Regions from separate parts of the Homo sapiens genome. Here region 2 is reported to be linked to region 1. Evidence: microRNA targets listed by miRTarBase, many of them from high-throughput screens and not tested one by one. Region 1 holds a microRNA gene; the other region holds the end of a gene's coding sequence.

Region 1 (5,176 bases):
AGCAACTTAAGCAAAGTCTCAGGATACAAAATCAATGTGCAAAAATCACAAACATTCCTATACACCAATAACAGACAAACAGAGAGCCAAATCATGAGTGAACTCACATTCACAATTGCTACAAAGAGAATACAATACCTAGGAATCCAACTTACAAGGGATGTGAAGGACCTCTTCAAGGAGAACTACAAACTACTGCTCTACAAAATAAAGGAGGACACAAAGACATGGAAGAACATTCCACGCTTATGGATAGGAAGAATCAATATCATGAAAATGGCCATACTGCCCAAGGTAATTTATAGATTCGATGCCATCCCCATCAAACTACCAATGACTTTCTTTACAGAATTGGAAAAAACTACTTTAAAGTTCATATGGAACCAAAAAAGAGCCCGCATTGCCAAGAGGCTGGAGGCATCATGCTACCTGACTTCAAACTATACTACAAGGCTACAGTAACCAAGACAGCATGGTACTGGTACCAAAACAGAGGTATAGACCATTGGAATAGAACAGAGGCCTCAGAAATAACACCACACATCTACAACCATCTGATCTTTGAAAAACCTGACAAAAATGAGCAATGGGGAAACGATTCCCTATTTAATAAATGGCGCTGGGAAAACTGGCTAGCCATATGTAGAAAGCTGAAACTGGATCCCTTCCTTACACCTTATAAAAAAATTAATTTAAGATGGATTAAAGACTTAAATGTTAGACCTAAAACCATAAAAACCCTAGAAGAAAACCCAGGCAATACCATTCAGGACATAGGAATGGGCAAGGACTTCATGACTAAAACACAAAAAGCAATGGCAACAAAAGTCAAAATAGACAAATGGGATCTAATTGAACTAAGGAGCTTCTGCACAGCAGAAGAAACTACCATCAGAGTGAACAGGCAACCTACAGAATGGGAGAAAATTTTTGCAATCTACCCATCTGACAAAGTGCTAATATCCAGAATCTACAAATAACTCAAACAAATTCATAAGAAAAACATCAAACAACCCCATCAAAAAGTGGGCAAAGGATATGAACAGTCACTTCTCAAAAGAAGACATGTATGCAGCCAATAGACACAAGAAAAAGTCCTCATCATCACTGGTCATCAGAGAAATGCATATTAAAACCACAATGAGATACCATTTCACAGCAGTTAGAATGGCGGTAAGTAAAAAGTCAGGAAACAACAGATGCTGGAGAGGATGTGGAGAAAAAGGAACGCTTTTACACTGCTGGTGGGAGTGTAAATTAGTTCAACCATTGTGGAAGACAGTGTGGTGATTCCTCAAGGATCTAGAATGAGAAATACCATTTGACCAAGCAATCCCATTACTACTGGGTATATACCCAAAGGATTCTAAATCATGCTACTATAAAGACACATGCACAGGTATGTTTATTGTGGCACTATTCACAATAGCAAACACTTGGAACCAACCCAAATGTCCATCAATGATAGACTAGATTAAGAAAATGTGGCACATATACACCATGGAATACTATGCAGCCATAAAAAAGGATGAGTTAATGTCCTTTGCAGGTCATGGATGCAGCTGGAAACCATCATTCTGAGCAAACTGTCACAAGGACAGAAAACCAAACACTGCATGTTCTTACTTATAGGTGGGAATTGAACAATGAGAACACTTGGACAAGTGTGGGGAGCATCACACACTGGGGCCTGTAATAAGGTGGGGGGCTGGGGGAGGGATAGTATTAGGAGAAATACCTAATGTAAATGATGAGTTAATGGGTGCAGCAAACCAACATGGCACACGTATACCTATGTATCAAACCTGCACATTGTGCATATGTACCCTAGAACTTAAAGTACAATAAAAAATAAATAAATAAAATTAAATTAAAAAATTTTTAAAAAGACATAATAGTGCTTCTATTCTGAGATGCGGTGTGTTACTATTCCCCCTATTATTTCAAATGATAGCAATATTAAAACAATTTTGTATTATACTTCCCTGAAGTTAGCACAATCAGGCTACTCTTTTTTGCCTTCAAAGCTAAGACCTTGACCCCAAACCACCACCATCTCTCACTCAGGTGGTGGCAACAGCCTCCTAACTGTTCTCTTAGCCTCTAGCTTTGTGCCTCTCTTCCCCAACAAGAGGAAATGCAATAGCCAGAACAGCCTTACAAGGTCCCTTTTGTTCAACACCCTACAATGAGCCTCAGTTCATTCTCAGTAAAAGCCAAATGTCTTCCTTCTCTTTTTAATTATCTAAGTTCATTTTATTTTCCAGGATATTGTTTATCTTGAAATTCTATGGGTGCAAGAAAAAAATGTGACTGCTGCTATTATTGCGTGGAGTATTCATATACAGAGTATGGCATCTATCTTGTTGGTTGATTGTGTTTTTCAAATCTTCTATGTCCTTACCCCAAACTCCCAATCCTCCCATTATGCTTATCACCTTCTAATGCAATATATGCTTACTTAATATGCTTAGTGTTTATTGTCTATCTTCCCTTGTTAGAATGTAAGCTCCACAAGGTAGGCATTATTGATTGTTTTGTTTCCTGATGTATCTCATTTTTCTGGAACTGTGCCTGGCACATAGGAGTGCACAGTAAATATTCATTGAATGTTTGAAGAATGCTCCATCCCAACCAAAGGTAGAATAAACCAGTTACTTATTTATTTTGAGACAGAGTCTTGCTCTGTATACAGGGTGGAGTGCAGTGGTGTGATCACAGCTCGCTGCAGCCTCAACCTCCTGGCTCAAGTGATCCTCTTTCCTCAGCCTCTTGAGTAGCTGGCACTACAGGCTAATTTTTTAAAAAAAATTTTGTAGCTATGGGGTCTCAACATGTTGCCCAGGCTAGTCTCAAACTTCTGAGCTCAAGGGATCCTCCTCTCTCAGCCCTCCAAATGGTTGAGATTATAGACATGAGCCACTGCGCTCAGCCCAGCTATGTTTATTTCTATGCCCTTTTCTTCCCTTTATTATTCTGTCTCACACACAAATATGTCTTTTATTCTGATGTCCCACTGATATGATATCAATCTATTTTAGTCAACATTTTTTATTCTTATGGGTTATATACTTTTTTAGTCTTAATATCATTTAAGGGTGGATCCAAGATTTGGGGGCCCTCTTCAAGTAAAAGAATGTGAAATTAAAAACACAAAAACTGCTTGGAAAGAGGCTCTTCACTCTCATTCATGCCAGCTATCATGTTGAGATGCAAGACACCACTCCCCTTTCTTTCCATTGTGGAAGGAATTTCAGATAGTAGAAAACAGGGGCTTCCACTGATAATTTCCTAGCATAAGCTATGATGTTGATGATAAACAAGATTAAACTAAAAGGCAAAGAAGAAGCAAAAAAAGTAGTTTGATTCTGCCAACACATAACAAATTAAAGTGATTTACCCGAACCACTTAAGGTTAATTACGATGAAGCACAATGTAGACTGTGAATGTCATTAGTCTGATAGATTCACTTTGGCTGCCACAGAAGCTAGCATTTGATTCTATGCTGAGCTAAGGAGTTTCTTCAGCTTCTGGCACACAACCCAAGGCTTGCCCCACTCCTTGTTTTTTTTTTTTTGATTTTTTTTTAATTGTTGCTAAAATCAGTGGAACACTGGAAGAGAGGGAAAGGAAGAGAGAGAATCAAAAGCATGGAGGCATATAGCAATCTGAGGAAAGGAAGAGGTTGAAGACATTAACGTAGATATCTATAGCCCCAGTTGAGTTTCTGTTCATCTCCCTTCAATACCCATTCTCTATCCAAATAGTGATGTGGCGCTTTGTTTAATTATTGTTTAATAGAAGTCTTCTCTCCTAGATTGGAAGCTTCCTAAGAGCAAAGGCCTCATCCACTTCCCTCCTGCTCTCCCTGCAACATGTCCCCCTCCATGTGTCTGGCACATTAAAGGGTTTCAATCAATAATTGATGTGTGAATTCCTTTTACGAATGAGTAAACAAATTGAAGAAAATTTGGCTCTTAGAATCCCCCACTTGGTAGAGCATCTCCTTAGTCCTGTTTTCTTTATTTCATTTATTTCTACACCAAGGATTTCTTCTGCTCCTTATGCCCAAGGCTGGAAGACTTAAACCCCTGAATGGGAAAGTGCCTTATAGCAACTGCCTTCATCAAAACGAATTAGACCATAAAGACATCTAGTCTGCACTCTCTCCTACCTATCACTTTCATTTTATTTGTAATATGTTAATAATACATGCAGAGCAGGATAAATGAAAAATATTACAATATGTTCTGTTGACCTAATGTGAGCATACATTTGGCCAAGTAACTGTGAAATATTTGATATTTTCACAGGAAAGCCAATGACTTTCCGTCTCTGAAGTTGGTGCTTTGGTTTATTTGACACATTTTCCATAGTCATGTTACCAGTAATTTTAGAGGTCCCAGGGGAAGAAACATTTCTCTTCCCTGAGTTCAGTAATTGTCATCTGAAGGTCTGAGAGCTGTACCACTTGCTTCTTGATTGTTTGGTTAAAGAAAAAGTTGTATGAAATGTCCTTTCTATTTTCAGAATATATATTTAACATAGAAAACCTGCTGGTAATTGTGCCAGCACTTAAACGCTATTGTTTCTTGGAAAGGGCCTATTCTGTTGCATGTGCCTTTTAAATGTAACATCTTTAAAACTTGAGTTCAAAGGACTGCCTCTCCTTTCATTAAACTGTAAGGACTTTGGAATGCTGTAAATTCATGTTCCCAGTAATTCTGGTCCTGGACAAGTTTCCTCTTCAACACCCCCTGTCCTTTGTTGTCATCTGTCTTCTCAGCGTCCTTCTGATGTCCAGCTTTGTGTTTCCTGCTATGGACATTTCCTGAGATCACTTGAGCTTATGTTCCATCTCCGAGAGAAAGCTGATGAGAATTAGTCATCCATGAATGTGATTATGGGTGATAATAAGCCCTTCTCAGTTGAGGTATTGCAGCTTAGCAGGAGACTTTTGAAATATTATCACTTTGCACAGTATGATTTTACCCAATATTCACAACAACCCTGTGAAGGAGAAGATGTGGCTAGAAATATTTCCATTTGTAGGTGACAACACTGCATTCCTGAAGGGCTAAATGATTTGCTGATGGTGATGTTACAGGACCCCAGCACTTACCCAAAGGTAGCCATTGGGTCAGGGTTTCTGCTCTATAGTCCCTTCTGTGTCAC
Region 2 (5,000 bases), not on the chromosome of region 1:
TGATTATAAAGTTATTCTACTTCATGTACATTGAGAGTGGAAATAAAGATATCCCAGGCCTCCCTGCCCCTTAGGGGTTTGGGTAAACTTGACTCAAAACTCCATTAATTCCATGGCCTGTAGCAGCTTTTAGCTACCCTGAAGATTTCTGCATATTCTGCATATTCCTTGGAGCTTGTTCTCAGGGGCACCCTCTTCTGGCTCCTATATTTATGTGTGGTACTTACGTGTTGCCCCATTTCACCCTGGATACAGCACTCAGCCCTTCCACCAGTTTCCATAAGAAATCCACCATGCCAAACACCCCTAACTTTAGGGAAAGACTTTGTGGTCACGAAGTTTTCCTACACAAGAGCTCAGAACTTCAGACCATCCTACTCCACTGGTTCCCTGGTCCTCTCTCCCACTCCAAGTCTACCCTTTGTTTTCTTACCTCCAACTACCCCAGGAGATTCAAGTTCTCTCTCTTACCATGTGGAGCAATTCAGCCCTCTCCAGGTCCTACCCCAATTTTAGATGTCCAAACCCACCACAGAGCTCAGCAAAACAAAAAGGAATCCAAATAACATGACCTTTCTTCCTTAATAGGCAACTGGGAATAGGAATTCGTTATAGCACTAAATGCTAGGCACTTTACGTTTATTTACTTCTCCCAACATTTCCATGAATTAGATATTTTCAAAACCATTTTAAAGATGAGAAACTTGAGGTTTAGAAAAATTAAGAAAATGAATATGGTTAGAGGAAGTGCTCTATCATCTTCATTTTTCCTCTCTTCCTCTCTAATCCATAGATCTTAACTCAGCTTTGCTATTTATATATGGCTCTTGCCCTGTAGTAGTATCAACCTTTCTCATCTTTTCCTAGATTTTACCACTGAGTATATTTTCCATCTGCTTCTGATATTTGCTTTCCATTCACCTAGTTTTTCAAATTTCTGAGAATATCAGTACATTACAAAGACTGAGAAATAATTCAAAAATTTTAAGAACAGAGCCAAGAGCTAGAAGGTCCCTTGGAAGGAATCATGTCCATGCTCACACAACACAAAGTAATCCCTCTTCAATTTCTGAGATGGCCTGACGAGCTGTGCCCACATTCTCACGCAGTAGACTATCTCAATGTTGGACTCTGATGCAAAGAGTTCTTCCTATCTGCAAGAGGCAATCTGCCGTTTATTCATGCTTCCAAGTTAGAAACCATGCAGTCATTCTGGACTTATCTTGGCTCACACTCTAAATCCTAGCAGATTCACCAAGAGTGAATCCCATCACAGATGACCTACCCTTGCCCCCACCCCCCACCCCCATCAGAAGGGCTAGTTTGGGTTGCTCCCATCCCAATGGTGGAATTGCAATGCAGACTTGTCTCTCAAAGCTGGTAGACGCCACAGCCAGTCAGACTGTTGACTGCGGCACAGAACGTGGGCCCCCTCTGCTTCAGCTGACAGCACTTCACGCCTTCCCAGGCATGGGCTGCAGTCAGCAGGGGCCAGGGCAGGGCTTGGAGGAACTGCCAAGGGGCACCAGGAAGATCACAGAAAGCACCAAAATGGATCACCCAAGGAAAAGGAATTAGCTGCCAACATTTTAAGATTAAACTGTGTGTGAAAATCGAGGTTGGTGTTTTCTTAGAAGAGCTGTGGGCCTGTATTCGCCGTGAACACAGAGCCACAGCCGAGCTGAGGCAGTCCTCTCAGTGGACTGTGCTCTCTCCAGATGGATTATTCCTGACTTGAGTCATTTATTACCTGTGTGGCTGTGACCTCAGACCAAGGTGTCCTCACACCTTAGTGTGCCCGAGAAAGGCCCATTCGAGGCTTGTTGTCCAGATGTGAGTATCAACAGCACCCCCTCCCTTCACTCTCAAGTGCTCAGTTTGGACAATAAATTACATGGTCACCCTGGGCTTAATGTGCAAGCCAATTCTCCACCACACACCCATACCCATACTCCCACACACGACCACTGAATTCACACAACTACATGTCAAGCACAGAACCCTGTTATAAAGCGATTTTATTAAATTGATTTGGACATACTGTAGGTCAAATAATATTTTCTGAAGATAACAATTATGGACTTTAAAGCTCGACATAAAATTAGTAGCTTCAAAAGGGTTAGTCATATTCCCCAGCAACAGCATGATAAAATAATTCAACTATGTAGAAATATAGAACTCTAGGACTAGCTGGAAACTCGGAAATCATTTAGCCTAATGTTCTCATTTTGAGAGAAAACTAGACTCAAAGATTAAGCGATTTGCCCAAGCTCACATACCTAATAGTAATAAAGCTAGAAATCAAACCAATTTTTCCTAAAACTAAAATTCTATCAATGATATTTCAACTGGCTATCAACTAAAAGTCTAGGCTTTTCTCTAATGCTCCACGCTATTGTGACATGAAAGAGTGATAAGACACTACAGTAAATCGTACTTGTGGAATTCAGGCCTGGAAGGGGCTTTGGCAAATAACTAAGCCAGCCCTCTCTTTGTAAAAAGGAGGAAAAGTATCTGAAGTGACTTACCAAAGGCTTGTTAGCAGAGATGTCTGGATTAAAATCCAGATATTGACAAATTCACCCCCAAATCCCATCTCTAGTTTCATGGCCCACCCACTAAATCATGTGCTCCTTTTAAATCTCCTTTATGCGCTGAGGTTTTAGTTATACAAAAACCCCTTCCAGTCAAACAGAAAAAATTAATTCAAATATGGAAAGAAAAATCAAACTTTCAGTATTTTCGTGACTATCTTGAGTAGTTCATTTTCCAACCTCTTAGACAGCTGACAGACACCACTAACCTGATCACCTATTTCAGAGCTTCAAAGATCCTTAATTTCCCCAAAGACTTCCTGAGCAAAAGGACTACATGTGGGAAATCAATGAAAACAGGAATGAGAAGAGAAAGTTAAAAATTGGTTGCTTTTGTTCCTGTCATTGGGGACTTTTGGTCTTCTAAACATTCCTTGAGTTCCTCCACATGAGTTTTTAATATCAATCTAGCAAAAATTAAAACAAACAAAAAAAGGCCTCTGAAAGTCAGGATACTGACCACCTCGGCATCTCTCCCCTTCCCCACTGCTTGCGAATGCCAGTGCTGGCCTGTTCCTTAAACGCACCAGCTCATCCCCCAGAGCAGCCTGTGTGCTCTGCCAGCGACTGCTACTTCTCCTCCGGCCTCAGCTCAACATCCCACCGCGGAAAGGCCTCCCTGACCACTAGCTAATGTCACCCCACCCCCACCCCACCCCACCACTAAAATCATCACCCTAGTTTATTTTCTTCATAGCACTTAATCACTATCTCAAACTACATTATTTATTTGTTTACTTATCATCTGTCTCCTCCACCAGAAGTAAACTCCACAAGAGTAGGGACCTTGTCTGTCTCATCAGTGGTATTCCCAGCACCTAGCACAGTGCCTGGCATATAGGAGGTGTTCAATACATATTTGTTGAATGAAGAAAAGAATGATGGATTAATAAAGACGTTCATGCCTAACAAAGAACTGATACACAGTAATCAATGAAGGGGTATCAAGAACTCCTATGCATTATTGCCCAAGATTACAGAAATAGAGATTGAAACATTAGTGACTCCTCCTACCATCCACTTCTCATAAGGTCTCCCTAGCTAGGAAGGAGCTCCATCTGTTACCAAAGGAGCCCAGAGGGCAATTCTGGATGAAGAAAAGCTCTCACTTTGCTTGCTTCTTCCTCCCTGCTATTTACATTCAGCTATTTCCAAAAAAATTCAAGTGAAAAATATGTGATGCAGCCACTACAAAATAAGTCTAACAGAGACAGTGATGAGCAGAATCCACACAAATAAAAAAGGTTCAAGGACATATATGTCTGCCAATGACTTTTCTGATAGGCTAAGTGAATGGGAATTATGAGTCACCTAAAATCTAAAATGAAAGTTAATGCCATCTAGGAAGGGATGGATATTTATGGGGATTTTGAGGACATATATTCAGAAATAATAGGATATATGGAAAGATATGTAGGGGCTAAATCAAGTGTTAACCTCAGAAATACCAGAACGTGATCTTAGTGGGAGCTGTCTGTTTTCCAATGCATTGCCAGTATGCTCGAATAAAGAGGAAGGAAGGGCATGAGCTCCTCAAGGGGGAGTATCTGGGATAGCTTTTAAGCAAAGTATAGATAGAAGGTGACTCAGGAGGCCGGGCAATGATTGTGGCTTTTTGTGTAGTCTTTCAACTATGGAGGCATCGTGCTGGAATCCCAGGAAGCGACGTCTGTGACTGGGACCTGAGAGCCATCCTGCGTGGATGCTCAGAGGTCCACATTCAAAGTCAACCTGTGGAACACACTTGGCATGAACCAACAAATCAATCTCACATATGCCTCCTCAGAAACAATGTTCTGCTAGGGATTGCGTAAATATTTCTTGGGTCAATGTAGGTATATACAGGGTTTCCTTCCTAGTGGCACTTATGGGTTTTAAGATTTTAAACTCTTAGCAAAACGTTTTATATAACTGATATTTTGAGATGGTTTCTCTCCTTTGTGTGGACTCTCTGGTGGATGCAGAGGCTCGTACTCTGACTGAAGGCCTTTCCGCACTCATCACATTTGAAAGGTTTCTCTCCTGTGTGGACTCTCTGGTGGATGCACAGGCTCGAACTCTGACTGAAGGCCTTCCCACATCCACAACATCTATAGGGTTTCTCTCCAGTGTGGACTCTCTGGTGGATGCAGAGGCTCGAACTCTGACTGAACGCCTTCCCACACTCATAACATTTATAGGGTTTCTCTCCTGTGTGGACTCTTTGATGCATGCAGAGGCTGGAGGTGTGCCTGAAGGCCTTCCCACACTCTTCACATTTAAAGGGCTTCTCTCCGGTGTGGACTCTCTGATGCATGCAAAGGTTTGAACTATTACTAAAGCCCCTTCCACACTCACTACAGACATACGGTTTCTCACCTGTATGAACTCTCATATGAATTTGAAGATGGGAGCTCCAATTGAAGG

The links. The annotated mature microRNA hsa-miR-3977 reads GUGCUUCAUCGUAAUUAACCUUA and lies in region 1 at 3,411-3,433, opposite strand. An mRNA with a match to its seed (bases 2 to 7 or 8) in the 3' UTR can be bound and repressed. Matches are read on the target gene's strand: a 7mer-m8 pairs with bases 2 to 8, a 7mer-A1 pairs with bases 2 to 7 and ends in A, and an 8mer does both.
Region 2: miRTarBase lists ZNF664 as a target of hsa-miR-3977. Seed matches in the 3' UTR shown: 7mer-A1 at 3,709-3,715.

The regions. Positions count from the first base shown.
Region 1 is chr5:82,838,414-82,843,589 of GRCh38, reverse strand. It overlaps MIR3977 (microRNA 3977), which reads right to left and starts at 3,435; the gene lies at 3,366-3,435.
Region 2 is chr12:124,012,428-124,017,427 of GRCh38, reverse strand. ZNF664 (zinc finger protein 664) reads right to left here. Exons shown (of 5, transcript NM_152437.3): 5 at 2,001-5,000. The coding sequence ends at 4,498. The region is part of intron 2 of ZNF664-RFLNA (ZNF664-RFLNA readthrough); the gene reads right to left. Among named protein-coding and RNA genes, the nearest start is that of ZNF664-RFLNA, 42 kb to the right of the region's middle.